3 separate regions of the Homo sapiens genome follow, and regions 1 and 3 are each linked to region 2. The links come from fine-mapping of genetic effects on gene expression. A gene starts in region 2. Each other region holds a variant in brackets. All regions are shown on one strand. Distances are between the middles of the regions.

Region 1 (11,151 bases), 190 kb before region 2:
CTTTATCAGCAGTGTGAAAATGGACTAATACAGTAAATTGGTACCAGTAGAGTGGGGCATTGCTGAAAAAGATACCCCAAAATGTGGAAGCGACTTTGGAACTGCGTAACAGGTAGAGGTTGGAACAGTTTGGAGGGATCAGAAGAAGACAGGAAAATGTGGGAAAGTTTGGAACTTCCTAGAACTTGTTGAATGGCTTTGCCCAAAATGCTGATAGCAATATGGACAATAAAGTCCAAGCTGAGGTGGTCTCAGATGGAGATGAGGAACTTGTTGTGAATGGCTTTGCCCAAAATGCTGATAGCGATATGAACAATAAAGTACAGGCTGAGGTGGTCTCAGATGGACATGAGGAACTTGGGAACTGGAGCAAAGGTGACTCCTGTTATGTTTTAGTAAAGAGACTGGTGGCATTTTTCCCTTGCCCTAGAGATTTGTGGAACTTTGAACTTGAGAGAAATGATTTAGGCTATCTGGCGGAAGAGGTTTCCAGGCAGAAAAGCATTCAAGAGGCGACCTGGGTGCTGTTTAAGGCATTCAGTTTTATGAGAGAAGCAGAGCACAAAGAGCATAAAGCAGAGTGGAAAATTTGCAGCCTGACAATGTGACAGAAAAGCAAAGCCCATTTTCTGAGGAGAAATTCAAGCTGGCTGTAGAAATTTGCATAAGTAACAGGGAGCCGAATGTTCATCCCCAAGACAATGGGGAAAATGTCTCCAAGGCATGTCAGAGGTTTTCATGTCAGCTCCTCCCATCACAGGCTCAGAGGCCTAGGAGGAAAAAGTGGTTTCATGGGCTGGGCCCAGGGTCCCTGTGCTATGTGCAGCCTAGGGACTTGGTGACCTGTGTCCCAGCTGCTCCAGCCATGGCTAAAAGGGGCCAATGTAGAGGTTAGGCCATGACTTCAGAGAGTGCAAGTCCCAAGCCTTGGTAGCTCTCACACGGTGTTGAGCCTGCGAGTGCACAGAAGTCAAAAATTGGGGATTGGGAACCTCCACCTAGATTTCAGAAGATGTACAGAAATGCCTGGATGTCCAGGCAGAAATTTGTTGCAGGGGCAGGGCTCCCATGGAGAACTTCTGCTAGGACAGTGTGGAAGGAAAATATGGGGTCAGAGCCCCCCTACTGGGGCACCACCTAGTGGAGCTGTGAGAGGAGGGCCACCATCCTCCAGACCTCAGAATGGTAGATCTACTGACAGCTTGCACCATGCACCTAGAAAAGCCACAGACACTCAGTGCCAGCCCATGAAAGCAGCCAGAAGGGAGGCTGTACCCTGCAAAGCCACAGGGGTGGAGCTGTCAAAGACCATGGGAATCCACCTCTTGCATCAGCATGACCTGGATGTGAGACATGGAGTTAAAGGAGATGATTTTGGATCTTTAAGATTTGAATGCCCTGCTAGATTTTGGACTTGCATGGGCCCTGTAACCCCTTTGTTTTGGCCAATTTCTCCCATTTGGAATGGCTGTATTTACCCAATGCCTGTGCCCCCATTGTATCTAGGAAGTAACTAGCTTGCTTTAGATTTTATAGGCTCATAGGCAGAAGGGACTTGCCTTGTCCAAAGACTTTGGACTGTGGACTTTTGAGTTAATGCTGAAATGAGTTAAGACTTTGGGGGACTGTTGGGAAGGCATGATTGGTTTTGAAATGTGAGGACATGAGATTTGGGAGGGGCCAGGGTCAGAATGATATAGTTTGGCTGTGTCCCCATCCAAATCTCATCTTGAATTCCCACATGTTGTGGGAGGGATCCAGTGGGAGGTAACTGAATCATGGGGGCTGGTGTTTCACGTATTGTCTCATGATAGTGAATAAGTCTCATGAGATCTGATAGTTTTAAAAGGGGGAACTTCCCTGCACAAGCTCTCTTCTCTTGTCTGTCTCCATGTGAGATGTGCCTTTCACCTTCTGCCATGATCGTGAGACCTCCCCAGTCACATGGAACTGTAAGTCCAGTAAATCTCTTTCTTTGGTAAATTGCCCAATCTCAGGTATGTCTTTATCAGCAGCATGAAAATGAACTAATACAGAGGGGAAGTACTAGGTCATATGGGAAATGTGATGGGGTGAGGTAGGCAGAATTCTAAATGGTCCTTATGATCTCTGCCTCCTGGCTCTACACCCTCTCCTCTTGAGTGTGGGCAGGATCTATGACCTATTTCTAACCAACAGAGTACGGCACCAGTGATGGATGTCACCTCTATGATTATGTTACTTTGCATAAGACTCCATCTTAGCCAACTGGAATGAGAGACTCTCCCTTGAGCTACAGGGGCCTCTAGAAACTGAGAGCAGCCCCTTGCTCACAGCCATCAAGAAAGTGGGACCTCAGCCACAACTGAATTCTGCCAACGACCATGTCAGCATAGAAGAGGACCCCAAGCTCTGGAAAGGAACAAAAACCGATGGCAATTTTGATTCTATTCTTGTGAGGCCCTGAGTGGAGGTCTCAGCCAACCTGTGCCTGGACTCCTGCCTACAGAAACTGTGAGATAATTAATGTTCACTGTTGTCCATCACTATATTTGTAGTAATTTGTTATGCAGCATAGAATACTGATACATGAGGAAAGGAAAATCACATCAATAAATGGGCCACAGACCTAAATGGAAAAGCTAGAAAGTTACTAGAAAGAAACACTGAAGAATGTCTTCATGACCTTAGAGAAGAAAAAAATTTTCTCCAGAGGATTCAGAAAATATTAGCCATAAAAGAAAAAATTGCTAAATTGCAATTTCAGCAAAATTTTAAAAATTTTTCTAACTAAAAGACACAATTTAGAAAATACTTAAGTTACAGGTTGGGAGAAAATATTTGCAACACATAACATTGACAAATGACTTGTATGTGCATGCATAAAGATTCCTATAACTAAAGAATGAAACAAGTCAATTAAAAAGAACATAAAAGAAGAGGGACCAATGGCCAGTAAGCCCATGATGCCCATGACAAAATGCTCAACCTCATTAGGCATTAGGCAAAATGCAAATTAAAACCACAATGAGATATCAGTACATATCAACAGGAATGACGGAAATGAAAAAGACAATACCAAATGCTAAAATAAAAAGAGATCAACAACAATAAATGTTGGAGAGGATGTGGAACAGCTAGGATAAGATCTTATACATAGCTAGAGGAAGTGTAAAATGTGCAGTCACTTCACAAAACTGAAGTTTCTTCAGAGTTTAAATATCTACCTTAGTTTGATTTTATAGCTTACAACAATAAAACCACATGCCTTCATCAGTAACTAGCATTTGAAATGTGTTTTTTAAAATCAATGTTATAAGTGTACATGATAGAAGAGTCAGTTAGACTTAATTCAGTAAGACTTAAATGATAGAAGAGTCAGACTTAATTCAGTAAGACTTAAAAAAGAGGAACTATCAACTCCCTATTTCCTTTTCTCAAGAGGGAAATCCTTTCAATTCCATTAGTTTTCTTTTCTTTTTTAACTTTAACTTTTTTGGTTTTTCAGTCTAATTGACTTTTTACTAGTGAAGATAAGGATTTATTTCTGTTTAACCACCACTACTACATGACCAATATCTCTTCCCTTACCCTATTCTTCCAGTGTAGCTATATCTCAATTGTTGGATATTTAATATTTCTAATGTTACTACTAAACTCTATTAAGGACTGAGCCTAATAATAATAATACTAGCCACCCTATTATTTTTTCTTTCTTGCCCTACTTTTAGTTTTCTTTGAAGTTTCTTCTTTAATTATTTGCTTAGTTTTAATCTTAGCCTCTAAAAAGTAGAGTCTGAAGCAAAAATTAAAGTGCTGTTACTCTATTTGGGAGATGCAAATCCAGATCACTGAGGTTGAGGAAAAAGGAAGGGAGGCAAATAAAGACGTGAAGCAATGCAAAATGACATGTTACTGCACTTGGCTGCTGCTGCATAAAGAACCACTTAGTGACACAGCGGGTTGTTCAGCAGGTCTGTTCATTTGGCACCCGAGACTTCTCCAGATGGGTTGCAAGAATAAATCATGCTTCAATGTCCACCATAGAAGAAAAGAAGAAAAGTGATTTGTCCTCCAGGCTCCTTCTTGTCTCTGGATTCTTGTTTGGTAAAATTCATCTCATGTGAATGTATTCCCTTGTACTTCTAGATTGCATTAACCCAGTCCCTTCATGGGCTGCCCACTTGAGATCCTAGATCTCACACCCTGTGCTGTAGTGTTTTATCCAACCCTGGAAGAGACGGAAGGAGAAAAACTCTGAAGGAATGGCTAGTTGGCCTAGCTTCAAGAATAGCTACAAGAGATGTAGGGAGCTTGCATCTCATATAGTTTTCTATACACTTATCACTGATACAACCCCAGCTTTCACCTATCCACTGAAAACTCCTCTCAATCACTCAAATAAATGAGGGTATTCCATCATTTTCCACTTCCTGGAGCTCTATCTCTGGATCCATTTGACCATACTCCACTCTGGACTGGTTGACATCTATACTTCGTACACAGCTGTTATCCTGAAATCTCCTTTCACCGTCATTTTGAGTTTTTCTCCTTCTGTCTCTTAAGTTGAAACTGTTTCCTGAATTACATATCTTCTTCTTTTCAACCTATCCATCTGACAAATGGCTAATATCTAGAATCACAAGGAACTTAAACAAATTTACAAGAAAAAAACAAACAACCCCATCAAAAAGTGGGCAAAGGATATGAACAGACACTTCTCAAAAGAAGACATTTATGCGGCCAACAAACATATGAAAAAAAGCTCATCATAATTGGTCATTAGAGAAATGCAAATCAAAACCAAAAGGTCATACCATCTCATACCAGTTAGAATGGTGATTATTAAAAAGTCAGGAAACAACAGATGCTGAAGAGGATGTGGAAAAATAGGAACGCTTTTACACCGTTGGTGGGAGTGTAAATTAGTTCAACCATTGTGGAAGACAGTGTGTGATTCCTCAAGGATCTAGAACCAGAAATACCATTTGACCCAGCAATCCCACTACTGGGTATATACCCAAAGGATTATAAATCATTCTATAAAGACACATGCACACATATGTTTATTGCAGAACTATTCACAATAGCAAAGATTTGGAACCAACCCAAATGCCCATCAGTGATAGACTGGATTAAGAAAATGTGGCACATATACATCATGGAATATTATGCAGCCATAAGAAAGGATGAGTTCATGTCCTTTGCAGGGACATGGATGAAGCTGAAAACCATCATTCTCAGCAAACTAACACAGGAACAGAAAACCAAACACCACATGTTCTCACTCATAAGTGGTAGTTGAACAATAAGAACACATGGACACAGGGAGGGGAACATCACACATCGGGGCCAGTTATGGGGGTGAGAGGCTGGTGGGGGGATAGCATTAGGAGAAATACCTAATGTAGATGATGGGTTGATGGGTGCAGCAAACCACCATGGCACATGTATACCTATGTAACAAACCTGCATGTTCTGGACATGTATCCCAGAACTTAAAGTATAATAATAATAATAAAAAAATAATCCTTAGAGGAAAATTACCAAATTATCATTATTTCCCTATAAAATTAAAGAGGCAAAACACAACTAAGATAAGGTTTCTGCCCACAACACATTTACAGTTTTAAAAGAGATTAATAGGTTGGTAGGTTTAAGTTATACAAACATTAAGCAGTGACCAGGTACAGTGGCTCATACCTGTACTCCCAACACTTTGGGAGGCCAAGGTAGCCAGATTGCCTGAGCCCAGGATATCGAGACCAGCCTGGGCAACATGGTGAAGCCCCGTCTCTACAAAAATACAAAAAATTAGCCAGACATGCTGGCATGCTCCTTTAGTCCCAGCTATTCAGGAGGCTGAGGTGGGAGGATCACTTGAACCAGGGAGGTTGAGACTGCAATACGGCATGATTTTGCCACTGCACTCAGC[C/T]TAGCAACAGAGTGAGACCCTGTCTAAAAATAAATAATAAAAATATTAAGCAAAGCAAGGCATAATTTAGTACTAACTTGATTGATGCAGAACCTATAGGAGATGTGAAGCCACTTTCTTGGTTTATACTTTTGTTTTGGTAAAAGACCTCCTAAGAAATGGTGCATAGTATGAATAGGGTGCATATAGTTCAATTCTGGCCTTGGTATTAAGCCTCAGCCTTAAAAAGGCCAAAAAGCCAAATGCATACTTAAACATAATTTCTGGCATCTATAAATTTTTACTAATCAATAATCTTGTGACCTTCAGGGTTACCACCATATCTAATTAGTGCTGAATCATCAGTAATGTGAATAAGCCACACCATTCAAATTATTGCTAATATTAGAATATTCACCTTCAAATATCAGTAGTCACTTTAGATGACTTTTGGAGTGAGAATCTACTTGTGTGCTTTATACATTGTAAATCTATCAGTTACTTGAACATGTACTCCCAAACACAAAATGCATTTGTATTATTCAAAAATTGAACATCTGGTAAAATTTGGCTGTGAATTCATCTGGCCCTGGGCTTTTCTTGGTCAGGAAATTTTTTATTACTAGTCAATTTCATTACTCGCTATTGGTCTGTTCAGGATTTCTATTTCTTCCTAGTTCAGTCTTGGAAGGTAGTACATTTCCAGGAATGTATCCATTTCCCCTAGGGTTTCTAGTTTGTGAGCATAGAGATGTACAAAGTAGTCTCAATTGATCTTTTGTATTTCTGTGGTATCAATTGTAATGTCACCTTTATGATTTCTGATTGTGTTTATTTGAATCTTCTCTCTCTTTTTCTTGGCTAGTCTAGCCAGTGGTCTATCAATTATGTTTATCTTTTCAAAGAACCAACTTTTTGTTTCATTGATCCTTCATATCATGTTTTTTTTTTTTTTTTTTTTTGTCTCAACCTCACTTAATTCTGCTCTAATCTTTGCTATTTCTTTTTCTTCTGCTAGCTGTTGGTTTGGTTTGTTTTTATTTTTCTAGTTCCTTGAGGTGTGACATTAGGTTGTTGATTTTAGGTCTTTCTATCTTTTTAATGTAGCCATTTAACACTATAAGCTTCCAGCACTGCTTTTGCTATATCCCAGAAGTTTTGGTGTGTTGTGTCTCTTTTCATTTGTTTCCATCTTTTTAATTTCTGTATTAATTTCATCATTTACTCAAAGATCATTCAGGAGCAACTTGTTTAGTTTCCATATATTCAAATACTTTAGAGAGCTCCTCTTGATATTGAGTTCTAATTTTATTTCACAGTGGTCTAAAAAGATATTTCATATGATTTTTTAAAAATTTATTGAGACTTGCCTTATGGCCAAGAATATGGTCTATTTTCCAGAATGTTCCACATTCAGATAAGAAAAATGTATATTTTGCAGTTGTTGGGTAGAATGTTCTGTAAATGTCTATTAGGTAGGTCCATTTGGCCTAGAGTCCAGTTTAAGACTTTGCTGATTTTTTGCCTTGATGATCTGTCTAGTCCTGTCAGTGGGGTGATAAAGTTCCCCACCATTATTGCATTGCTGTCTCTTTTCTTAGGTCTAGTAGTATTTGTTTTATGGATCTTGGTGCTTTGGTATTGGGTGCATATATATTTGGGATAGTTATATCTTCTTGTTAAATTGAACCATTTGTCATTATATAATAACTTTTGTCCTTTTTTACAGTTATTGATTTAAAGTCTGTTTTATCTGACATAAATATAGCTACTCCTGCTCATTTTTGTTTTCTGTTTGCATGGTATAGTTTTTCATATGTTTATTGCAGCACTATTCACAATAGCAAAGTCATGGAATCAACCTAAGTGTCCATCTACAGATGACTGGATAAAAAATGTGGTAATTGTATTTATATATATATACACACACACACACATACACACACACACACGATGGAGTGCTACACAGCCACAAAAATGAAATTATGTCTTTTGCAGCAACATAAATGGAGTTGGAGGCCATTACTATAAGTGAAATAACTCAGAAACAGATAATCAAATACTACATGCTCTCACTTATAAAGGGAGCTAACCAGTGGGTACACATGGACATAGAGAAGGAACTAACAGACACTGGGGACTTCAAAAGTGGTAACAGTAGGAGGGGGTAAGGGTTGAAAAATTACCTGTTGGGTACAGTGTTTACTATCGGGGTGATGGACACGCTGGAAACCCAAACTTCACCATTACACAACATATCCATGAAGCGAACCTGCATCGGTACCCCCTCAAACTATTAAAAAAATTGAAATGCTATAAAAAGTAATGAGCAATTTTACATATGAAAACAATTATTAAAAACAGCCAAATAGCTGAATATATAGGAAACAGAGTGTTGATTTGAAGGTTAAAAAAGAGTGGATTCGTGACATAAACATAGGAAGAACTTCATATCCTTTTTGAATAAAATGTTAATTAAAAACTAAATGATACAAGAAAGAATAACAAAGATTAGATTATATCATAATTCACATCATTATAGAATTGTTTGAGGTACTAGCACTCAAAACACTAACAAAATAAACTTTAATAACTATATTTAACTTTTTGTTATTTCCCTTTAGGCCGAAGGTATTTCAAAAAAATTTGTCACAGCTTGTGAGGATATGCTTTGCCCTCTCAACATTTCATGAAAAGAAAAAACTCCAAAACCATGTACAACATCATCCATGATTAATCATCTTCAATGTAGACATAACAAAGATACAAATAATACATTTCACAATTTTAGAAAAAACTGAGGTAAACAAAACACATATTTTTCTTGCTGATAAAATATCAAAGTAACAGACATCACAAGAGTTCTTTAAGTTTTTTTAGTTTTGAGTCTTTGGAGGATAAAAATGTAAATAATATACTTGTTCAAAGAGTTGCAATAGACTATGATAAATTTTCAGTAATTAAAGATGATGGATTTTTAGCTGGGTGAGGTGGCTCATGCCTGTAATCCCAGCACTTTGGGAGGCCGAGGAGGGTGGATCACCTGAGTTCAGGGGTTCAAGATCAGCCTGACCAATATGGTGAAACCCTGTCTCTAATAAAAAATACAAAAATTAGCCGGGCGTCATGGCGGGTGCCTGTAATCCCAGCTACTCAGGAGGCGGAGGCAGGAGGATTGCTTGCACCCAGGAGATGGGGGTTGCAGTGAGCTGAGATCGTGCCACTGCACTCCAGCATGGGCGACAGAGTGAGACTGTCTCAAAAAAAAAAAAAAAAAAAAGATGATGGATTTTTGAGATTTGTTCAAGCTATGAATTCCAGATTAAATTAAATAAAAAGATATTTAAAAACACTCCTGATTATATTCTTTTATGCAATGGAGATATGATTTGTCATGCTTTGGATGTTAATATAGTTATATCTGCTTTCTTTTGATTAGTATTTCCATGGCGTACCTTATTCCTTCTTACTACTTTTTACATTTCTAATCATTATATTTCAACTGAATTTATTGTGAGCAGCATATAGCTCAGTTTTTATTGTCTGAAGTGGGGGCAGTTGAGATTTTAATAACATAAATCAATGTTGGGCCCTGCCTGTCAGTGCCAGGCCCATGGGCCTCCTATCTTTCTATTGCTTGGATGGCTGCCTGCAGCCAGGCTTCCCACATTCCCTAGGAAAGATCCAGCAGCAGCCTGAGAAGGGAGGCAACAGCAGCTAAGGGGATAGAAGATGGAGGAGACAGAAGCATGTGCAGGTGCATGTGTGTATGAACTTACATATGTGAACACACATAAAGTGTTAGGTTTACAGACCCTGGCTCAGAAGCAGTCTAGGATAGGAAAGGAAGTAGGCAAGCTTTGAAGAAGCATTTTTCTCTGGAGTGCCTCAGCCTCACCCTGTCCCAGGGACAGACATGTTGTGTATGAGAAACCCACCCCTGGGTCCCAGGCTTCAGGACTGGAGCCCTTTTGAGTCTGGTGGATTCACAGGTTCAATGTGTGGGTCCACCGAGTCTGTCTCCTCCTGAAAGCCCTGGAAAGGTGGGAGATAGAAAGTAAAAGGAAGCAGGTCTCTGACAGATGGACCTGACACCTCAGCCATCACTGGTCTCCGAGTGAGATGGTGATGATCTCAGCCTTATGTTCCTACTGAAGGGCCTGCAGAGCCCACAGAAGGCCTCCTTTAGTCCGTGGAACACCTCATTCTCTATGTCTTCCCCATTGGTCAGCTCATACAGGCTAAGTACGGAGTTGTTCTGGCCACTCCTGGAGACCCACTGATAGATGAGTTTTCCCCATTCTTCTGGCCTCCGCCACATGATTAGGAAACTAGACTTGCTCTTATCCAGCCACTGTAAGTTCCCATTCTTCCTCAGTTCCTCTAATACAACCTGGATTGATCCCACAGGAAGCTTCCACAGCTTGATGTTGCTGAAGAGCAGGATCTCCTGAGCATCCATAACCATCATGCTTGACTGTCTGTGCAGGCAGCAGATGGACAGAACCAACAAACACCAGGTGGCCAGCTGCTTCTGCCAAGTGGCCACGTTCAGCTGTAATGTAAAGGGCGGGAAAGCGATACTGCCACAACCACTTGAAATTCGTCACCATCATAATAGCCCAGGAAATCCCACTTTTTTTTCCTTTAATTTTTAATTTATGTTTATTTATTTTTTTGAGACAGAGTCTGGCTCTGTCACCAGGCTGGAGTGCAGTGCCGTGATTTCAGCTCACTGCAACCTCTGCCTCCTGGGTTCAAGCGATTCTCCTGCCTCAGCCTCCCAAGTAGCTGGGGCTACAGCCATATGCCACCATGTCCAGCTAATTTTTGTATTTTTTAGTAGAGACAGGGTTTCATCATGTTGGCCAGGCTGGTCTTGAACTCCTGACCTCAAGTGATTCACCTGACTTGGTCTCCCAAAGTGCTGGGATTACAGGCATGAGCCACCACGCCCAGCCTCACAGAACTTTTGAATCTGTTAACTGAATTTTTTTTTCACAGTTTTAGAAAATTCTTGGTTAGTAGCTCTTAAAATATTGCTTCTGCCCCATTCTCTTTTTGTTTTTCTGAGACTATTACATATTGTTATATATTAGACCTCATCACTGTATCACATATGTCTCATGGTCTTTTCTGTACTTTCCATCTCTTTTTTTCCCTTCTCCCTGAACTTTAGGATGGATATTTTCAGTTAGTCTGTCTTCCTGGTGATGAATTCTCTCTTCTGCTGTATAACTCTCTGGTAGGGAGGTAGA
Region 2 (10,892 bases):
TTGGAAAGAATGCCCTTTGAAGGAGATTTTTTTTTTAATGACAAATCCTAATACCCAATCTGAAAATAAAACTCCAGTGCAGACTTCATTACAACCATGTTTTAACAGGAATAAAGTTCTAGCAAAAATTCAATAGCAGTGAAAATAAACTTTTCTGACAGAATTTGCACAACTAGGGAAAATAAAAGTAGCAATATGATTTTCCTATCCAAGAAATATGTGGAGTCAGCCCAAACCAGAAGTTAATTTTTTTTAAAGAGGCAGAGCCTCTGTCTCTCAGGCTGGAATGCACGGACACAATCATAGCTAACTACACCCTCGAACTCCTGGGCTCAAGTGATCCTCCCACCTCAGCCTCCGACTACAGGCAGGCACCAACCACCATGCCCAGCTGTGTGCATGTGCGAGTATGTGCAGTGACAGGGTCTCACTATGTTGCCCAGGCTAGTCTCAAACTCCTGGCCTCAATCAATCAATCCTCCCACCTCCACCTCCCACATAAGTTAAATATTCTATAATTTTCAAACAATAGTAAACAAAACATTTGCCCAGTTAAAAATAAATTGGCTGCTCTGCCTATAATCCTTTGTTTCTTTCCTCCTCTAATAAACTTGCTTTCACTTAAAAAAAAAAATCAATTAATGTTTACCATGTACTACTGATTTCTAGAAGATACTTAGCTTCTGCATTACCAACTTTCCAATCTTAGGCATGAGCTCCAATTTGAAAGTATCCATATCGATAAAAATAAGATTCGGTTGGGTGCAGTGGCTAACACCTGTAATCCGAACACTTTGGGAGGCCAAGGTAAAAGGATTACTTGAACACAGGAGTTTGAGACCAGCCTGGGCAACAAGTAAGACCCTATCTCTACAAAAATTAAAACTTAACCTAGCATGGTTGTTCACACCTGTAGTCCCAACTCATGCCCATAGTTTCAGCTACTCAGAAGGCTAAGACAGGAGGATCACTTCAGCATAGGAGTTTGAGACTATAGTGAACTGTAATTGTGCCACTGCACTCCAGCCTGGACCACAGAATGTACCCAAAAAAAAAAAAAAAAAACAAATGCAGCAAAGGCATCTACACCAGTCTGTTGTTGACAAACGTCAAATACAAACAAACCTCACAATAATTCATGTCTGAGTAAAGGGAAGTGGGAAAAATAACCATGAGCAATTTATAAGGGAAATGGAACATCCAGCAGACTTTAATATTAGTGCATAAAACAATGTGACGTCGCCCAAACAGGAGCAGAAAGCCCCAAATAAAAAACAGGATAGAAAAAAAAGGTCCAGAAGAGGGATGAGACAAAGAAAGATGACAAGAAAATTAAAATTGCAATAGTGAGATTTGAAATCTCTACTCTTGTAACAAAACTGAATCAAGCAAAAAAAAAACACGAATCATAACATGAAGAACTTGAGAAACTCACTAAAGCACACTGCAGCCTGGACTAGCCACATTTTAAGTGCAATAGTCATATATAACTAGTGGCTATGGTACTGGACAGCGCACAGGTTTGAGTGATTACGTCTAGCACAATGCCACACAGCTAGTTAGTAGAACTAAGATGCAGCCTTATTTATAACTCCAATGCCTTTGAGGAAAGTATCAAAGGTAAACATATACCTGACCCTCAAGTATTCAATTCAGACTAACAAAGTTCTGACTGGAGGGTGAAACTTATTAGCTATTCAGATAAACAGCTCATAAGCTGGGTTTTTTTTTTTTTAACTCACAAAGCCCATCTATAAATGCCATTATATAAAACAAATGTCAGTTTTAAAAAAAAAAGTTTTTAATTATTGAGATCTATTATGTACACAAAGTATACTTACGTATATTACTTTATGTATATTAGCGTATAACAACATGTATATTATAACAACTTCTGGTTTTGGGTACTGCAAAATCATAGATACTATAAATAACCATAATCAACACCAAACTACACATTTGATATATCCTTATCATCTATAAAGTGTATCTACAGTGTTTGAAAATTCTGGATTATTTATGAACTACTTAATAGAAGGGAACATATTGGTTTCCTCATGAAAATATACTAAATTCATGTAATACCACTATTATCTATAAATTAGGGCATTAATTAAATATAGTATGTATTTCTTACTAATCCATGGCCATGTCACCCAGAAACCTAGACATTATCTTGGACTCACTTTTCTTTCTATTTTGGCCCCATATTTAACCAACCACCATTTTCTGTGAAACTTAATAGTTTAACACCTCTTGACTCAACCACTTTTCTCCACTAATTTATCTCATTCTCCACTATCACCACTGCGATCTAAGCCAATATATCCTCTGTGACCCAGCCCCTCTTAACTTGTTATCCTCCTGCTTCTTACCATCCAGTAAGTAATCATTGCAACCAAAGTGATTATTTAATTTTTTTAATTTAAAATGATCATGTCATTCCCTTGCTTTTATTACAATCCTTCAATAACTTCTCTTAGTATTTATGATAAAAACCAAAATATTTAACTACAAACTCTCTAGAATCCTGACTAGAATTTGCAAACTCAACAACAACCAGGTTAAATATTGATTGATTTGTATTTACTTATTTCGCACTCTGAGTGGCACATGCCCGCCCCCGTCCCCCTCCCAAGGGAGCAGCTGCTACTGGGTTGTGGCTTGAATATTACCATCTGAAAATACACTGGATGTTGCCATAACCTCTAATTTTTCAAGAAAGATCAGAAATCCAGACTTTAACATGAAATCTCCTGATCTGTGAATGCTGACAACTAATTCAAACTTTTGTAACAACAATAAGGAGGCCAAAAAACTTGTAAGCAGGCCAAACCTGACCTCTCATCTAGTCTCATCACCCAGACCCACACCCTCTGCAACAGCCATACTTAACATTTCTCAGATTCTTAGTGATGCCAAGCTTTTTTTCCTTAGGGCTCTCACACATGTTGTGTCTTCTGCTTTGACCCTCAACCTCCCCTCAACCTCCAATTCCACTTCATTAAGCAATCTCCTACTCATTCTACGTTTCTGAGGCACACTTTCTCAATGAAGTCTTCCTTATTCCCACTGCCCCTCCACCCCCAACTCTATAGACTAGGTCACACATTCCTTGCTCTGAAAGCACTGAGTACAACTTCGTAACATTCATCACACCTCAAAAACAAAATTATTTATTTAATGCCCATCATCTCTCCCTAGATTGAAAGTTTCATGAAAGCGGGGCCTGCCACAGTAGGCATACATTTGTTGCCAACCAGTTTGGTTATAAAATGTTCCTTTAGACAATAAGATCCTAGTATACTTCTAAATATTAATCAAACTGTACCCTACTTTTCAGAAAATATACAGTATTTAAAGGAAAGTAGATTCCGAATAAAAATATTCCATTACAATTATAATCACTGATGATAATAATAGTTAACATTTATTGATCATTTACTAAATGCCAGGAACTATGTTGAGTGCTTTGCATGTACTATCTCTTTCAATAAAACAATCTGTAAAGTAGATACATGCCACTGTGATACAAAGGAAACAATATAGAGTTTTAAAATTTCTCAGTATCATAAATCTAATCAGTGGCAAGCTAGGGTATGAATCTATACAGTCTGACTCCAGAACTTAAACACCAAATTATTATACTAATCTATTAATAAAGAAATACTAACTAAACAAGTATCTCTTAAGTACTGCAAATAAGAAATGGTGACCATGACTTATTTTCCATTACTTATTAGTTAAAGTAACATTCCTCAGCCCTCTATCCTGTACCCTTACACACACACACACACACACACACACACACTAAATGAAGATAAACTGTCAATTTGTTTCTTCTAAATTAGGTAAGTTCTGACCCATACCCAAAATACATATGATCTTAGTACCAACTGTAAAAGTGCTATTTTTCTGAATTATTTTTAAATAAGTTAATGTTTATACATTTGATGTTTTCTGTTTCCACATTTTAAACATACACTTAATTTAAAAAGTATTTCCTTGCTCAAAGTAAAAGAAAGTTTATTACTACAGACTCTTTTCTGATATAGTAAACAACAGCAAATAATACGCTAAAGCAAATGTCAACTGATATAACCACAGAAATACAAAGAGATAACACAAGGATCCTTTGCCACCTGAACTCTATTTGAATTCTCGTTTTCCAAAACTCAGGAACCGAATAGATTCCAAAAACTGCATTGGAATCTATCCAGACTCACATGTATCACTTGCTATCCAGACTCTTACTAGCCAAAACTCAGGGCATGGCTCACAAACCACCCCTGCTATCAGAACAATAACCAATCTCTCATTCCAAACTCAGGAACCCAATAGTTTTAGATAGCTAAATACATATGCATATATATCCAAGGGCTTCATAAATTTAAGAATTCTTGTTTAAACTATTTATACAGACTGTTAAAAATGTGAATAAAAGGCACATATCTGTATTTTCATTCAAATTTCATATTTTAACTCCATTTACTGAGAATTTTTGTGTAAATGTTTTTAAACTAAAATGTGGTCATATTATTTTAAACTTTTAGACCATTCAAAATGTATTTTTTAAACTGCTTAGTACATGACAGATACTATTAATAATAGAGCTAAGTAATGTTAATGTGTGGCTGTTGTGAAACAGCTCTAAAAACAGCCTTAACACATTTTTTCAATATATTTCATATGTTATACAAATACCATGCGAAATAAGATTTTCAAGGAAAACTACTTTCACCGTTAATTTTTCAGTAACATATTTCACAGATCATATTAGTGTTTTCTTAAAGTCACAACAAGCAAAGTGCAAAATTAAAGAAACAAATACAGGAGTACAGTAGTCGAAAATGGCAAAAATTCCAAATTAACTTAGTTACAAAAGAATGGCATGAAACAATATTAGAAGTAACTACTCCATAAAATTCATCCAAAAGTCAAAGAACCATCACACAAGTAATGAATTAACTAGGTTGAGAAAAAAAGAAAAACCAGTTCTCATAAAACAGTGCATTTTCCCAAATATTTAATGTAGGCTTACACGTGAACCTAAGCTTTTTCGGTGCTTGACAAAAAGTTAAAACTATCATCAGATGGGAAATGAATTCAAGCACATGATTTTTTTTCCCACATACTCAAGAATTATTTTAAGAAACAAGGAAAAGATGGCAGGTTTAAGAAAAGTCAACTACTTTCCCAAACTCTTGAGTACAAATATAAAAATTATAAAAATTGTAACTAGAGCTCCCATTTTATCCTAGTTTGGCTATGCTCTCCCCAGAGCTCACTTTAGATTTAGTGATCTGAAAGAATGTGAACCCCTTAATCAACCAAATTCCAATAGTTGCTTGACACAGTCCATCTATTACATTAAAAGAGAGAGCAAAATTAAGTTTCACAAAAATAAATCTTGTCTACAAGCCTCACAAAGTGCAATAACTTAGGATTCAATACCTTTTAACTTAACTGATTTCATATACAGCACCAACACACATCCCCAAAAAAAGAACAAAAATCAGGATATTTTCACGTTAAGAAATGACAGGTATATTCTGCCCACGTTTGTCATCCTAAAAAGCTGACTCACTACTAAGCTTCAACTACAAGCCAGAAAACGAGAGCCCTCTGGGAGAGCACACCCAAAAGAGCTGTCAAGGTTCGATGCTTTGATTTCACATGGTGGCACAATGACTGACTCCAACACGTTATTAATAAATGCAGGCACAGCTTATGTCACCATTTCTTTAGGTTAAGTTTTCATACCTCCCTTCCCAGATGTCCACATTAGACACAACTCTGAACGCAAATGTTTTTCTTATATAAAACCGAAGAGAAGAACGACTTAGGTAGGACTCCAGTCCTACCAGTCTATGGACTCTACCATAGACTGGAGGTAGAGTCCCTCCAGTCTATGGTTTTATTCAGCCAGTCTTGAAGTAACAATACAATATTTATGACTCGAAAAATTACATTTTACTGCAAGAAAAAAAAAAGACAGATTCGATCCAATCACCGTACCTTGCTCTGCCAAATGTTAGTACCAGAACTTCTGAAATAAACAAACCTGTGTCTATGTTCATCGGGTCCATGGATCAGGAAGACTCCGGGGTTTTTAGCCCCTTTACCGGCATCTACATGTGGAATTAACACATCTTCTAAACCCAAATCAAAGCGTTTGTGTTTTGAAGAGTCTGGAAGGAAAAAGAATGCCCCAAAACACAGAGTGATGAAGGCACTAAGAATAAGGAGAAGAATAAACTTCTCAGAAAGTCTCAAGGTAGCCCTGTGATGTGGGAAGGAAGGCGGCCCCAGGTTCAGAGGTGGTATCCTACGTCCAGAGAGGGGCAGCAGGGCTGGGGTAGTCATCGTTTACGCTCTTGGAGAGAATACTTTAGAAAGTTCTCATCTTATGTCAAATGTAGAATACATTGAACTGTCTTCAAAATCTTGGCCAAAATGGGAAAACTCAATTTTGCTCCTCTTAAAGGACTGTTGTGCTTTTTAAGAGGGCACGTCATTCACGCCCATCCATTCCCACTCAGAAACGTGTGTGACCTCCCCCAAACGATCACAAGTTTAGGTCCTGCGATATCCTCTTCAACATCTGTACTTCATCGGATTATTACAAGCCTCCTCTTCATTCCTAGGGGTAGATCAGGCAAGCCACACTGCAGAAAAGCTGCAAGGTGGGTTCTTCCATTCCTGCACCTCAGTGAGATGCTCAAACGTAGTCTTCCGCCCCGAAAGGGAGACTGGCGACATCCGAGGAGTTGTAGAAGGTTCACTTGATCTCCTTCGACGCTTCTATTCCAGAATCTCTTAACCTTAGCGGTGGAAAAAATAAGGGTCTCCCACGGACGTCTGCAAACAGGGAGGAAGGTCTCCCACTTCGCTGGGAAGCCGAAGCAGCGGCGCTGGGCGAAGTAGCAGGAAGGAGTTCTCGGCCGCCCGCGCTTCCCGGCGCTGCCTGGCAGGAACCTGGCGCCCGGCTGAGTCCCGCTGCTGCCCACTCGACGGCTGGCGCGAAGGGCAATAGCGTCCGAAACACCTGAGTCCGGCCAGCCGCCGCGGCCGCCGCCGCTGTTGCTACCGCACGGGTCTGTCAGGGAGCGGAACTTCCTCCTCCGGCGGCCACTGAGAAGCCCCGGCGTGTCCTGGGGGAGGGGAGGCGCGGCGGCCGCCCCCGCCGAGCTCCTCCTCCTCCTCCTCCTCCTCTTCCTCCTCCTCCTCCTCCTCTCCGCGGCCGGTTCAGTGAACCCCGGCGCCTGCTCCCCGAGCTAGGCCGCCGGCCGCAGTGGCCGAGCCCTCGCGCCTAAGAAGCCGAGCCGGGGCCCACGCTCCGAGAGCCCGGGGTAGGCGCCGGCTCATTCCTCACTCAGCCCTGGAGCGGCGGGAGGGCCTGGGCGCGCGGGAGCAGCCGCGCCTCGGGCGGGCAGAGGTCGGCCGCGTCTCCTTCCTGCCCGGCCGCGGGGGCCTCCTCCGCGCCGCCTCCGGTGGCTCGCAGCTGCTGGCTCTGGCGGCGGCTGCCAGAGAGGCAGCGCGCCCACGCCGCTCGGGGCTGCGGCCCGGTCCCCGTACCCTGCCTCCCCAGGCCTGGTGAGCGCAGCAGCTGCTGGGCCGACACCCGTTGGGCTCACGCCGGAGAGGAACCGGAGGGCGGGGGCGATGGGACCCGGGCCGGCCTACCGGCCCCGGCTCGCGAGTGGGCGTCCCCGGGCGGCGGAGTGTGAGGTGCGCGCGCACGCTCCCGGCTCCGCTGCCGCCGCCCCTCCCCCACCCAGCCTGGCTGCCCGGGCTCCGGCCTCGCGCCGCTGCCGGCTCCAGCAGCCCGAAAGCGTACTGCTGCCGCCGCCGTCTGAGCGCGAAAGAAGAGAAGGTCGCCGATCTGCGCTGCCACGAGAACTTCACCGGTGCCCAGGGCCTTGCCACCGCCAGTTCGTGGGGTTGACCCAGCGTTTGGGCGAGAGGGAGCGAGGGGTTGGGTCGCGAAGGTTTCGCTGAAATGTAGTGTCACCGGAGTTAATGGCTTCTGATGGCTTAGGTTAACGTTTACTGTGATTCTTTGGAAGTCTTGTCTTCAGCGATAGACCGTCAGGCCCGAGGATTCAGCAACAGGGTCTCAAACTTCCACGCAGCAGCCCATGCTCACGTTATTGGGCCCCCGAGGCTCGATTAATAGAGCACCAACATGTGCCATGTTACGTTTTTAAAATAAAGTGGTGACCCTGCTCCTTCAGCTGGGCTTCCTTTCAGAGGAATCTAGGTACCCCCGATATGACAGGCGTCTCTTCATTGTTCAGTTTCTGGGGCACGTTCTATCATCTTCACACACCTCATCAACCCCCTTCCCATAAAAGAGAAAATGGATGAATAAGGAGGTGCTGAAACCCAAAAAGGCGACAATATTGTTTACGTTCAGGCTTAAAAACAATCTGAATCAATTCTGTTCTCCGTAGTATTGAGGAGAGCCATGTTGTGATTAAGTGCAAAAGATTTCCTTGCAAGATACATAGACTCTTGCATCCGATTTACTTGCAGGTTGTTTTTGTTCTAATATTGTCATTCCCTGTACACATCCTTTACTGATGACTGGGAATTGGAGAGGAGGCCCTTAAATGTCAGGAGAGTAAGTCAGCCTTAGCTTAAAAATCAAGCAGAAAAGTCTCATGTTCATTGGCACACTTGTAACTACATTCCAGTCTCCCAGTCTGCATTATTTCTAGAAGCTCTGCATATCTAACTGCCTACCACATGACAAAAGTCATTGTCATTGATCCTGCTTCACCAAATAAAAAGTAAAAATATTGAGGGCCACCTCTCACCAGTTCACCCAGGGAGACTGGTAAGCAAGGAGTGCCCGGTCCCTAGTGAGATTTATGTTGAACATTTGTGAAGAGTAGATATAAGAAACTTTTAGCCTTCCCAATATGTCTTTATAAAATGTGCCAAATTTAAGAATAAGTCTCTAATGTTGAGACTCCGTAAGCCAAAGTGGGGGGGGCGGTGGGGAGGCGGGGAAGAACACACTGTTTTCCTACTGTTGAGATCATTAGTTTCCATGAAAAGTTCAGGGGAAATAAATACTGAACTCTGAATGAAATAGCAAGTTATATAAATCTTGAAAAATAAATATTACCTAGGTTAACACTAGACTTAACCACAAGAGATTTCAATCATGAAACCTGACATAACCTAGTTGACAAGTATAGCTTAAGCAAGTAAGACCTCATTGCTGATGGAGAAGACCCCTTTTCCTTTGCTTGTCTGTTTTGCAAAATTCATTTTTCCTTCATGAGAGTAAAAACAATTTAGGGGTTATTGCAGATGTCCAAATGCAGCCAGCAATTTTAAAGTCATTGATGATACCGTCAGTTATCACACTCCTACACCAGCAATGAAAATACTGTATACATAGTATTACATATATCCACTCTTCTAAAGGCAAGTCTGAGTTTTTAAAGAATCATGTTGTTTAAAAAAAAAAAAGTTGCAAATGTATCCATTAATTATAATTATATGCACTTAAAAACATAGAAAAAGAATATTTGAAAAAGATTGCAACTATTCTGTTAAGATACTGGTTTTACGTATGATTTTCTCCATTGTATTCTGTTGCATTATATTTACAATTAAATAAAAATTATAAAGGAACTGGTGCCTGAAAAAGTTAAGGTCAAATTTCAAATAGGTAGACTCGGTAGTATCAAGATGAACACACAGACCGGCCCATCTGAAGGCAATCGGCAGAAACAGTATGCAGCCTGTTCTATGTATGTGTGTATGTGTGTGTACACGTACAACAGGGAAGGATTTCATTCCAGAGAGTCTAAAAAGAATATTTCATTTTCAAAGAGTAGTTACCCTTTGATCAGAGATTCCAAAGTGATGATTTCCCTTTTACAAATCCATATAAATTAATATTTTAGAAATTAGAATTAATAAATTACTAACAAAATTTACTCCTGCAGATTTACAGGACCACTCCTAAGATCCACTCGTATTGCAATGTGGAAGTTACTTGTATTTGTTCAACCATGTGTTGACTTTTCTATTATTGAAACCATTTCACACCTGTTATACACACACGCATGCACACACACACACACACACACACACATACACCCCTAGCTCTGTTTTAAGTGAAACTGAAGTGCTACAGGAAAAAAATAAAAGCTGGTATGCAAAAAGAGGCTTTTGATTTACTTATGTAACCTGTTCCAACTGGTGCCCAAAATGTACAAGGAAGATATTGGAGGAGAAATTACTCGACGTGACCACTGAATGTGTAGGGAAATAACAGGCTTCAGCCTTGCTCCTTCCAATCTTGCTTTCCTCTATGAGGCATTTTCCTCAGAGGTCAGGGATAAACTGAAGTTCAGTGCTGTGAAGCCCTCAAGTAAGATCCGTGAAAGTCGGCAAAGCCAAAAAATCTTGGCTGCTTCTCTGAGCCAAAGTACGTGAGGCTCATTTGCTTATAAAAGACTCATTTGTTGGAGGACTACTATTTGACAAATCCTGTACTAGGTGCTGGAGATTTGGAGAAATAAGTCAGAATCCTTATGCTCAGTGAGCTTGCAGTCTAGTGTGGAGGAGTAGATGAACACTGACGATTACAAGACAGTGGGAAGAATGCTGTTGGAGCAAAGTGTCACGGGCTTTATGGGAACACTGAAGGTGCCACAGAGTGAGAGGAGGTGGATTGGGAAAGTTAGGGAAAGTTCCCCAATCCAGTGTCACCTGAGCTGAGCCTTGAACCATAAGAGAAGGGTCGTGCTCCAGCCTAGGGAGCAGAGCATGCGCAGGCACCCATAGCTGGTTTTTCCTGCCATTTACGCAGAACACTTCCTGCTCTACTCGTCCAGTAAATAGCTTGCCTGGCCCTAATCTCACAA
Region 3 (11,151 bases), 90 kb before region 2:
ATCACATCTTATTGTCTCTGAGCTCTTGTATCTCTGTTTATATACTTGTTCTACAGAGATGAAGGCTTTACTATGTTTTCTCTCATGGTGATATTTGCTTGGAATTTTCAATTGCTCTTTTACGTATTTTGTGCCCACAATTTTCCCTCCTTTTCCTTTTTTCTGGTAATATCTTTGTATAAATTCTGTACCTGTTCTTTTTTAACAAATTACTCATTACTATTTTCCTGAATGAAAGTTTTGACATAAAACACCAGGTAAGAGTCCAGACATAAATGTTTTTTTTAGACTTTGCTTCTCCCCAGCCACTTGAGATTGGAAATGCAGCACAATAGTGAATCTGTCATTCATTCCCTTCCCTCACCAAAGTTCGCAGGCGCAAACAGCTTGTCTGTGAGAAACCTTACTCGATTCTGTTTTTCCAGCTTCTCAACACATTATATCTAGTAAGGTCCAAAGAAGTACTCACCATTAGCCTGTGATCCTGTTCTCATTGCTGCTCATGAGAATTTGAGTTTTGTATGTCAAGTTACACCATCTAATTTAGAGAATTGTGCTCTACTGGCTTTGTATTTTTCAGTCTGCAGACCCAAACATCCTCTCTTCCATTTATACCAAACCTCTCTCTGATCTTTACTGCTTATATGCCTACTTTTCTTCCTATTTGGTGTTATGAAGCATCAAGTATCCCTTAATTTTGTTAGAAATGGAATTTGCAGTGTTCTGTTTCTTTTTTTTTTGACAGAGTCTTGCTCTGTCGCCCAGGCTGGAGTGCAATGGCTCGATCTCAGTTCATTGCAACCTCTGCTTCCCAGGCTTCAGTGATCCTCCCACCTCAGCCTCCCAAGTAGCTGGGGAGTACAGGCACGCCCCACCACACATGGCTAATTTTTGGTAGAGAAGTGGTTTCACCATGTTGCCCAGGCTTGTCTCGAATTCCTGAGCTCAAGCGATCCACCCACCTCAGCCTCCCAAAGTGCTGGTACTACAGGTGTGAACCACTGTGCCCAGCAGTGTTTCTTCTTCTTGCAGCTTTTAGGTTAATTCCTATGATTTAGGTCTTCTACTTCAGGAAGGCCCATACGTTAAATTATGTTTATTTTACAAATCTATTATCTTTTTAATCTCTGCTTTTCCTTTGTTTTGACTATGACTATCTCTTGCTTTTATTCCATGTAAGTAATTCAGTTTTTAACTATGTGCAACGAGTTCTTTGTTGTTTTCCATTAGCTATGGGGATACATCATTTTAGGTCTCAGCTTGTTTCTTTAGCTCCACAATATTTTTGTATCACTTTATTGTTTTATTTTGGTTCTGAGTTCTAACTCTGTTAAATTTAATTTCTATTATGGTATGAATTACTCATGGTGACTTTTTTTTTTTACTGTTTTTAAAATTTGAAACTGGATTCTTTATCAGTCTTCTACATGCTATATACCACTCTGCTTTTGTTTCTAGCAGTATGTTTGCACAATTGCCATGCTTTCTGTTTTATCTTGTTCACATTTACCAGGGTCAGTTCTGACCTGAACTTTGTTGATTTCTCCTTGAGTTCCTCGTGTGTGTGTGTGTGTGTGTATGTGTGTGTTTCTCCCTTCTTGGATACAATTTGAGATCTGGAGTACTAGTGTACTTCTACTTGATCACTTGAAGCCTATGTGTTCAGGAAGGATGAGAGGTGAGAACTCTGCTGGAGCTGTAGGCAATTACATATTTGACGCCCTGGGCACTGGTCTCCCTGGCAAGACAGATAGGGAATACTAGGAGTTGGCTGACTCTCTTTTCCCAGAAAGGTTTCAGGATACGGTAGGAAGCAGACTTATGTCTCATTCCAGAAATCAGAAATCTTTTCGTTTTTGTTTATTTTGGTTATCAAATATGACATGAAGTTACATTTTTTCCTTCTTTTATTGCCTTTGATGAATTTGTACTGTCTTTAATATTTTTATTAATATAATTGATATAAAAATAATTTTTAACATAATTAATATAAAAATATTTAATTTTTATTATTTATTTAGTCAGAACAGGGAAAATTATGTCATCTAGTTCCATTTTCCTGAAAATTCTTCTCTGTTGATGAAGTACTTCATACACAGAAAGGAATATACATATATATCTCGACTCTACTCACATCTCAATTTAAGAAATACAACACTACGAACACCTTTGATGGTCTGTTCACTGCCCATTCACATACTATTCCCCATATCCCAGATGTATCTGTAGTCTTGAGTTTCATATTTGTCATTATCTTGACTTTGTGAAAGCAAATTATACGAATTGGGTCATTCTTGTCATACCCAACTAAATCAGAGTCAAGGGGCCCAGCAGAAAATCACCTGCGGCACATAACACCAGCTCCAAAAATTACGTTTTCCACAAGCTCAGCTGCTATAACCCTAAGATTATAGTTTTATCTACTGCCATCACCAATCAGAGCCAGACAGCTTCTAGAAGCTTTACTCGTGTCAACACATTTCCTTTCAAAACTATACATAACATTTCTAATAAAACTTCCAACCTTCTCTTTGTTCTCTGGATGTACTGAGGACCAACCACCCTACTCTGTGTGTATGCCCTGAATTGGAGTTCTGTGCTTCCAAATAAAACATTTAATTTAGAGATTCATCTCTATATATTATTTTTACTTCAACAATTTATCAAAACCATTTTGAATCCCTAACCAATATACTGTTCAGCTTTGTTTTGAACTTTATAAAAATTGTATCATATTCTTTTAACTAACAGATATAAACATAATTCATTTTTCATTACTATTTTGTATTTTATTATATAAATTGCCAATATAAACAATGCTTCTACGTATACAATGTAAATGTACATACCGAATAATGGAATTGCTGGGTTACAGGGTATTTTTACTAGGTAATATTTTTTGTTTCCCATTGTAAAAATCCTTCTTTACCCCAAGGGCATATATTTTTTTATTCTCAAAGTGTCAGGGTTTTATATTTTAAAGTTAAGCCTTTAATATTCCTGGAATTAACTATTATAATCCACAGTGCGACACTTGTTAAAACAAGTTTCTACATATATGTAGGTCTGTTTAAGAGCTATCTATTCTGTTTGTCAGTCTGTTTGTCCCTATTAACAAATACTATACTGTCAATGTTGATAACTGGGCAATGTAAATCCAGCCAGTGTGTTTTTCCTCACAAGTGTCTAGAATGTTTCTTTACTGTATAAATTCTAGAAGTGTCTTTTCGAGTTCCACTGGGAGGAAAAAGGCCATTAGAGATTTTATTGGCACTGAATTTATGCTATAAATCAATTTGGGGATGACTGAAATTTTTATGATATTGTTTACCTATATATAAATACGATATCTCTCCATTTATTTATATCCTCTTCAATATCATTTAATAAAGTTTTGTATTTTTAAATTTTTATTTTTAATTTTTATGGATATAAAGAGTTATACATATTTTGATACTAGCATATAATGTATAATGATAAAATTTGAGTAACTGAAACATCCATCACTTCAAACATTTATCATTTCTTCTGTTGGAAACATTCTACGTCTTCTCTTCTAGCTATTTTGAAATATACAACAAATCATTGTTATAGTCACTCTATTGTGCTATCAAACATTAGATCTTATTCATTCTATGTAACTGTACTTTTGTACCCACTAACCAACCCCTTTTTATCCTTCTCTCCTCACTACCCTTCCAAGCCTCTGATAACCACCATTCTATTCTCTACCTCCGTGAGATCAATTTATTTTAGCTCCCACATATGAATGAGAACACATAATACGTGTCTTTCTAAGCTTGGCTTATTTCACTTAACATAATGTCCTCCAGCAGTTCCATCCATATTGCTGCAAATGAAAGGATTTCATTCTTTTCCATGGCTGAGTAAAAATTTGAACTTTATCTTTTGTTAGATTTATTTGTAGGAAACATATATACTTTTGTTCTATTACATAAGATATCTTTTTGCAAAATGACATTTTCTTGCCTTTTGTAGCTGGTGTAGAGAAATGCTACTGATTTTTAACATCCATATTGATCATCTATTTAAAAAAACATATTAAACTCTTATTTCTAGTAATTTAAATATAGACTGTCTTAATATCTTAGGTCAATAATCACGTAATCTGTGAATAACTACTGTTTTCTTTCCTCCTTTTCAATTCCTAAACATCTGGTTATTTTGTTTTTCTTGTCTTACCAGGCTGGGTAGGTACCGCAGCACAATGCTGCATAAAAATAGCAGTGAAATTTTTGAAAAATGTAACAGTGGTTATAACTTCTCAAATAACAATACATATTTTAAATATGTTCTAAATAGAAAGGACATTTCTTTGAGTAACTTCAAAAGAAAAAATAAAGGCTACAGCCCTAATAAACATATATCTAGAAAGGCAAACCTTTTAAGCATTAATCAAATCTTTGGGCCAATCTTAAAGGACTCTTTATAACAAACAAAGAATAGAAGGCAAGAAAACAAACCTTTTTGTAGTAAGTCAGGTCCCCTGTCAAGTAGCTGAGGTGGATGAACTCCATATGTAGTGTACCAAATTCAGCCAGAATGCTGCTACCTGCAGATGCCCAGCCCCAGTTTCGCCCTACTCCACTGAATGAAAAGGAAAAGTAAAAGGAGACACAGGATTGGGAAAAGACCAAAACATTCGTTTAATGAATATGTAAATTTTAAATAGATCTCTTATAAATTATTATATCTGACACGATAGCTTATTTATATCTAAAATTGTATTAAAAATTTAAATAGGTAATAAATCCATGTTCTAAAAATTAAAACAGTAGTTTTTAAATCCAGTAAATACATTTCACCCATTCTCATCTCCATTCACCTCATCAGGCTCCACAGAAAATCACTTTCATTCGTTTCTTACATATTACTACAGAATGTTTTATGCAAATGTAGGCAATCCAAATATATATGCTCATTGTCCTCCTTTCTTAAACAAAACATAGCAAGTTGGTGGTCTTTCCATATCAGTTCATAAACAACTTTCTCAGTTTTTTTTTTTTTTTTACAGTTGTACGGAATTCCATAATATTAATGATTCTCAAGTGGAATGCCCCACCCTAGAGGCACATGAAAATGTGTGGGAGCATTTTGAGTTGTCTCAAAATTTGAATGTGCAACCTCCACTTATTGTGCCAGGTCCAAAGTTATAAACTGCCCTGTAGTGAATGATCGGGACAGTATCATACAATAAAGAACTGGCTTGCACCAAACGATGATAGTGCCTGTGTGAAAATTAATATATTACATAAATATACACAATTTAATAAATTCCCTATTGATGGTCCCTTGGGCTATTTCCAATATTTTGTTACCATGAACATTTTTCAGTGAATAATCTCATAAACATTTCATTTGTGCAGATATAATCTCTAGAATATGCTCTTGCGTTTTATTTTTTTAATCTGTCTAGTAATTTTTTATCTGAAGGCAAACTACATAAAATGAAAAATTGTAGAGGCTTTGAATGACATTATCTTCTAAAAAGGTTAAATTTCTTCTGAACACAGACTGAGTAAATGCAGATTACATTGTGTTTTAGGTTTTGTTAAAAATAGTCCATTTCCGTTTTTACCCCAACTTCCAGAAATGGCCCTGGGAATTTCAGTTGGAAGCCAGGGGTATTTACCAAGGGCACCTAAGCAGCCTAACCTCTGTTTCCCCACTAGCATGTGGCTGTTAAATTTCCTCCTTAGCCCTTAAATTTCTTCTGCTATTTTCTGCTGGGTTTCTTTGAGTCTTGCTTGCCCCATATATGTGGTTATGGAATCACCAATGACTTCAGGGAAATTTGTCCATAAATTTTGGGCTTTTCCTCTGCAATTTCTTTCTATATGAGATTTTGTCCCTATGTTTCAGTCATTTTAGCAGCTCTGGGGCCTGACCATTGTCTCCTCTGCCCGAAATGACTGCCACTTTAGATATGGCCTCTATTGCTCTGAACATGTTTTAGAACATATCCTCAGGGAAAAAGCCAATGTTTATATGGCGATGACCTTAGGATCACAGCCCCTCAAGCTCTACCTAATTGCATTTCAGTGTCTTCAAACCATTTGGTTTTATATATTTTGTCTAGCTTTCATGACTGCTTTTGGTAGAAGGGTAGTCTGATAAACAGTATTTCCTGGTTGGAACTGGAAGTCTAGATGATTCAAGCAGCAGAGTTCCTGGATTATTCCTACAAGAACTCTAGACCATTCTCTAGGATCTTGTCTTATTTTTTGGGAGAAGTATAAATATAAATATTTTTGCCAGGCGCGGTGGCTCACGCCAGTAATCCCAGCACTTCAGGAGGCCGAGGTGGGCAGATTACCTGAGGTCAGGAGTTCAAGACCAGCCTGGCTAACATGGTGAAACCCCATTTCTACTAAAAATACAAAAACTTAGCCGGACATGGTGGCAGGCGCCGTAATCCCAGCTACTCAGGAGGCTGAGGCAGGAGAATCGCTTAAACCCAGAATGCAGAGGTGGCAGTGAGCCAAGATTGCGCCATTGCATTCTAGTTTGGGCAACAAGAGCGAAACTCTGTCTCAAAAAAAAAAAAAAAAATATATATATAT[C/A]TATATATATATATAGATATATATATATTTCTCATCTTATATTCACTTGTATTCTGTCAATTCAATATGTTATATTTTATTTGTGTTTAGAGAACATTAAAATAGATGTAAGAACATATCACAACCTTGCTTAAAGTTCCTTCATTGTTTGGTGCTATTTTTAAACTGTCTGAAAATATGGAAGGCAAATACCACTAGGATATTTTATAGCTAGAAGTGAGAATCAAAGAATAAATATGGATATAGTAACTACATAAGACAGTAATTCATTTCACAAATGTAAGTGTTTACTATGCTGTGAGAGAGTGGTGAACCTGACATATACTATTCCTGCTCCTACAATAAATAAGATCATTTTAAATAGTGATAGTTGCTGTGAAGAAAATTAAAAAGGAAAAATAGAATGTTGAGTACTAGAGATAGAAAGTGAGTTACAAAAAAGGCTTTTTACATATTATGTTCAGAGAAAATGTTTCTAAAATGATATGATTTGAACTGAGACCTGAATGATGAGGAGCCACTAATGAAAATATCTGGAAGAACAGAATTCCCAGTAAGGGAAACAGCAGATGTAATGGCCTTGAGGGAAAGGAAGGAGGCTAGTTTGGCTAGAGTTCAGAAAGTAAGGGGAAGTGAATGACACAGGATGAGGTTAGAAAGCAAGGTATAATCTGGACTATGAAATAATTTTGTAGGCCATGGTAAAATTTTAGTCTTTAAGTGTGATGGAAAGTCATGAATAACTTTAAGGATTATAACATAATACTTAAGGAATAAAGCATACCATTTAGAAAGATTAACTAGGTTTCAGCATAGCGGATGAATTATAGTGTGGTCAAGTATAAAAACAAAACTTAGGAAGTCCAACAGTTTGCCATTCTCTATAAAAAGAACATCTCGCCAAAAGTCAAAAAGTAACACTTTTCAAAATACTAAATTCTAAATAAGGTTTTTAAATTTTTTACATAGTGTCACAGGAAGAATCTAAAATATTAAATTTGATACTTACATATATCCTAGCAACTCAGAAAAATAAGAAAATCCCTAAGAACAAGATATAATGCTGCCGAGGACAAAATTTCCAACTATAAAATGATGATGAGCTGCCAAAAAATAACCGGATCATCATTTCATGCAAATGTTATGTTTTTTTCTCAACTGATCAAAATAAAAGGTCTGGATACTAAAATTTACGTATATACTCAGAGAACCTGAGTAACAAAAAATTTGCAATGAATACCAAAAAACAAAAACAAGCAAGCAAAACGTATGTTTCTCTTACCTGACCACCAGCAAAAGGAAAGATTCTAAAAATGTTTGGTAAACTCTTGACAGTAAATCACCCTAAGTGGTCTACAATCATATTAAATTGTTTTGATAATGAGTCTTCTATATTTTGGTTTGCATTTTGTTCAAAGTCAGTCGAATATATTTAATCAATGTATTGAAAGAATGGAGTAAAGCTTTCAGTAAACTGCAATTATTAGAAACAAAGCTTGCAAACACACTGATATTGAAATGCATTCCGACAAAAGCAAAGAATGAACTGAAGAAATTAAAACACTCAATGTGTAAGCTTAAGTTGAAGTATCTTCATTTGTAGGAATAATGGTTTGATGGAGCTCCTATTTTCAATTAGATTTATTTATATTGTATACTTCAATGGAATGAAATTGAGAAGCCCTATGATTCTGTATCATCTAAACTGGATGATTATTTAAAATAATTACAAATAAAAGTCAATGTAAAAATATCTCAGATTTGTGGAAGGTATTCTGAATGAAAGCAAAAGAATGGGATTTGTAAAAATATCTGGTCTGAAATATTTAAACATTTTAATATGCAAAAATTTAGAATTGAGAATATCCTAAAATTAAGCAGAATTTGCTCTGAGCAACTGTAGGGAGAATACCTTCTCTAATAAAAGCATACAAGAGTCAATTGAAAGTGCCAATAATTTCAAATTTAGATAAATACACAAGAATGTATGTTTTTAATAATTTCATTTTAGAAAATAGGTTTATAGCAGAATTATTTTACAGGATACCCAATAAAATAAAACCAATTTGTCAGTGATTAAATACTCAGAAAATTAAATAGTTTTAATTATTTCAGCTCCCCCATTCATTCTTAAATTGTACTCTTATGAACAACACACTATATGGTCATTCTCATTATATGATGCCATAATCTGGCTTATAAAACATTTTTAATATACTGTAAATATTTTATCTATGATATCATTTATGTGGCAACATATTGTTTTACCTTATGGACTACCAAATTTGCTTAACAAATGACCTTACTCTTGAACGTTCAACCTGTACTTATGATTTTGTGAAATACGCCGTGATAAACATAATTTTGTAGATGTCTTCCTTAGTCCATACATCCAATTTCTTCGGGCACATTAACAAAGGTTGAATTGCTGGGTCAAAAGAAACAAGCTTTAAGGGCTTTTGACAGATAATACACTAGTCTACAAGTAAAGCTGAAATGTAAGAATGGCTTTCTTCTCACCTTTTTATTATAGCAGATGCTTTAAAAATTTTTTAAGTAAAAACTTCCTTGTTTGACAGCAGATGAATATAACAGCTTTAATTTTTATTTTAAAATGAAGTCTGATTTTTGTTACATTTTCATTTAATTTGAGAGGATATGTAATATACTCATGATTTAAAATTTAAATGGCACTGAAAAAGCATAAAGTAAAAAAAAAAAAGTATCTCTCTAAGCCCTCTACCTCTTCCAATCACTCTCAGTACCAAAGCAATCTGTTAACACATTCTCATCTATCCTTCTGGAAAACTGCATAAGCATAATTTGAGTTGTCTATTACATTTTAAATACTCACTGGTCTCTTCTAATTTTAATTCTGTATTTTTACAAACTTTTTTCTAAATATGTTTTCAAAGTTAAGATTGTCCTTCAATTATAAGGTAATGTTATTTTTTGTTATTACACAGCCCCTCAGCCAAGTGTAGGATCTGGTTTATTTTTCTTTTTAAGTATATACTGACGTATAATTTACATACAAAAATGCATCCTTTCAGGTACACCATTCAATGGGTTATGACAAATGAAAACAAAGACTGGTATACAAACCAAGTCAATCCTTCCAAAACATGTCCTTATCCCTTTTGCAATCAACACACACACTTCCTCCACCAAGTCTCAAACAATTCTCAATTTGCTTCCTCTCACTACTGATTAGTCTTGCATGTTCTAGAATTTCATACAAACATCATACAGTATATGCTCCTGTGTTTGGCTCTTTCACTCAACATGTCTTTGAGATTCACCCATATTGCTGTGTGTCTCAGCAGTTAGATTCTTTTTATGGCTAAATGGTATTCCATTGGATGAATATGACAACTATTTACCTATATCCTATTGATGTGATAAACATTTGAAAAACAGTCAAACTGTTTTCCAAAGTGTCTCTACCATTTTACATCCTACCAACCTAAGTTTACTATCTTGCCTTTTCATTGTCTATTTTTCCCATTAGTTGTTTCCTTCTCTATTCCTGCCTTCATTTGGATTCAGTAGTTTTTAGTATTCCATTTTCTTTACCGGCTTATTTTTTTATGACTGCTCTAGGCATTACAACATAAACCATTAACCTTCCCACAGTAGACCTTTATATATTATACCACTTCACATATAATGTAAGGGCTTCACGTCTCCATACTATCCTCTGTGCTACTGTGGTAACAAATTTTTCTCCTATGTATACTATAGGCCCCACTATGCGAGTTATTATTTTTGCTTTAAACAAAGACCAAAACAGAAAAAATAAGCCTTTTATATTTATTCAAATATTTACTGCTTCCAGTGCCCTTCCCTTCTTTGTGTAAATCTGTTTTTCCATCTGTTGTCATTAGAAAGTTCCTTAAAATTTCTAACAATACAGGTATGCTGGCAATAAATTCTCTAAGCTTTTGTTTGCCTGAAAATGTCTTAATTTCACCTTTGTTTTTAAAGAATATTTTCAGTGGCTATAGAATTTGAGATCGACTTTTTTCTTTCAACACTTTCAAGATGGATTCGATTGTTTTCTGGATTGTATTGCTTATGATAAGAAGGAAGTATTTCTATTTTGGTTCCCCAATGTAAATGCCTTTCTTCTCTGGCTGTTTAACTTTTCTTTTTCTAGTCACAGATTTTCAGACGTCATGTTTCTTTATATTTATCCTGCTGGGTTCCATCAAATGTTGGAATCTGTGAATTTACAGCTGTTTAACAAATCTGAAAAATTTCTAGACATTACTTCTTTAAAAACAGGCATATCTCAGAGATATTATGGGCCTGGTTACAGACTACCTCCATAAAGCAAATATTGCAACAAAATGAGTCACACAAACTTTTTCGTATCTCAGTATATATAAAAGTTATATTTACATTATACTGTAGCCTTTTAAATGTGCAACAGCATTATGTGGAAATAATGTTCATATCTTAATTTGAAAAATACTTTATTGCTAAAAATGCAAATGATCATCTGAGACTTTCAGCAAGTCATACTCTTTTTTGATGGTGGAGGGTCTTGCCTTGATGACGATGG

Alleles and levels. Alleles are on the strand shown, and positions count from the first base shown. SD is a standard deviation of normalised expression in the study named.
With allele C in place of T in region 1, the expression in lung of the gene that starts at base 7,101 in region 2 is lower (small effect, 0.18 SD a copy in GTEx).
With allele C in place of A in region 3, the expression in skeletal muscle of the gene that starts at base 7,101 in region 2 is lower (moderate effect, 0.48 SD a copy in FUSION).

The links.
Region 1: its variant is fine-mapped to the expression of MAN1A2 in lung (TOPMed, PIP above 0.99). The same link has a PIP of 0.9 or more in left ventricle.
Region 3: its variant is fine-mapped to the expression of MAN1A2 in skeletal muscle (FUSION, PIP 0.95).

The regions. Positions count from the first base shown.
Region 1 is chr1:117,548,770-117,559,920 of GRCh38, reverse strand. It overlaps the pseudogene VPS25P1. Among named protein-coding and RNA genes, the nearest start is that of TENT5C-DT, 51 kb to the left of the region's middle. The variant C/T (reference allele first, on the strand shown) is at 5,915.
Region 2 is chr1:117,363,658-117,374,549 of GRCh38, reverse strand. MAN1A2 (mannosidase alpha class 1A member 2) reads right to left here and starts at 7,101. Exons shown (of 13, transcript NM_006699.5): 1 at 6,065-7,101. The coding sequence starts at 6,366. RefSeq lists an enhancer at 6,036-6,175 and silencers at 7,046-7,865, 10,786-10,845.
Region 3 is chr1:117,453,946-117,465,096 of GRCh38, reverse strand. MAN1A2 (mannosidase alpha class 1A member 2) reads right to left here. Exons shown (of 13, transcript NM_006699.5): 7 at 4,485-4,608. Among named protein-coding and RNA genes, the nearest start is that of MAN1A2, 92 kb to the right of the region's middle. The variant C/A (reference allele first, on the strand shown) is at 6,585.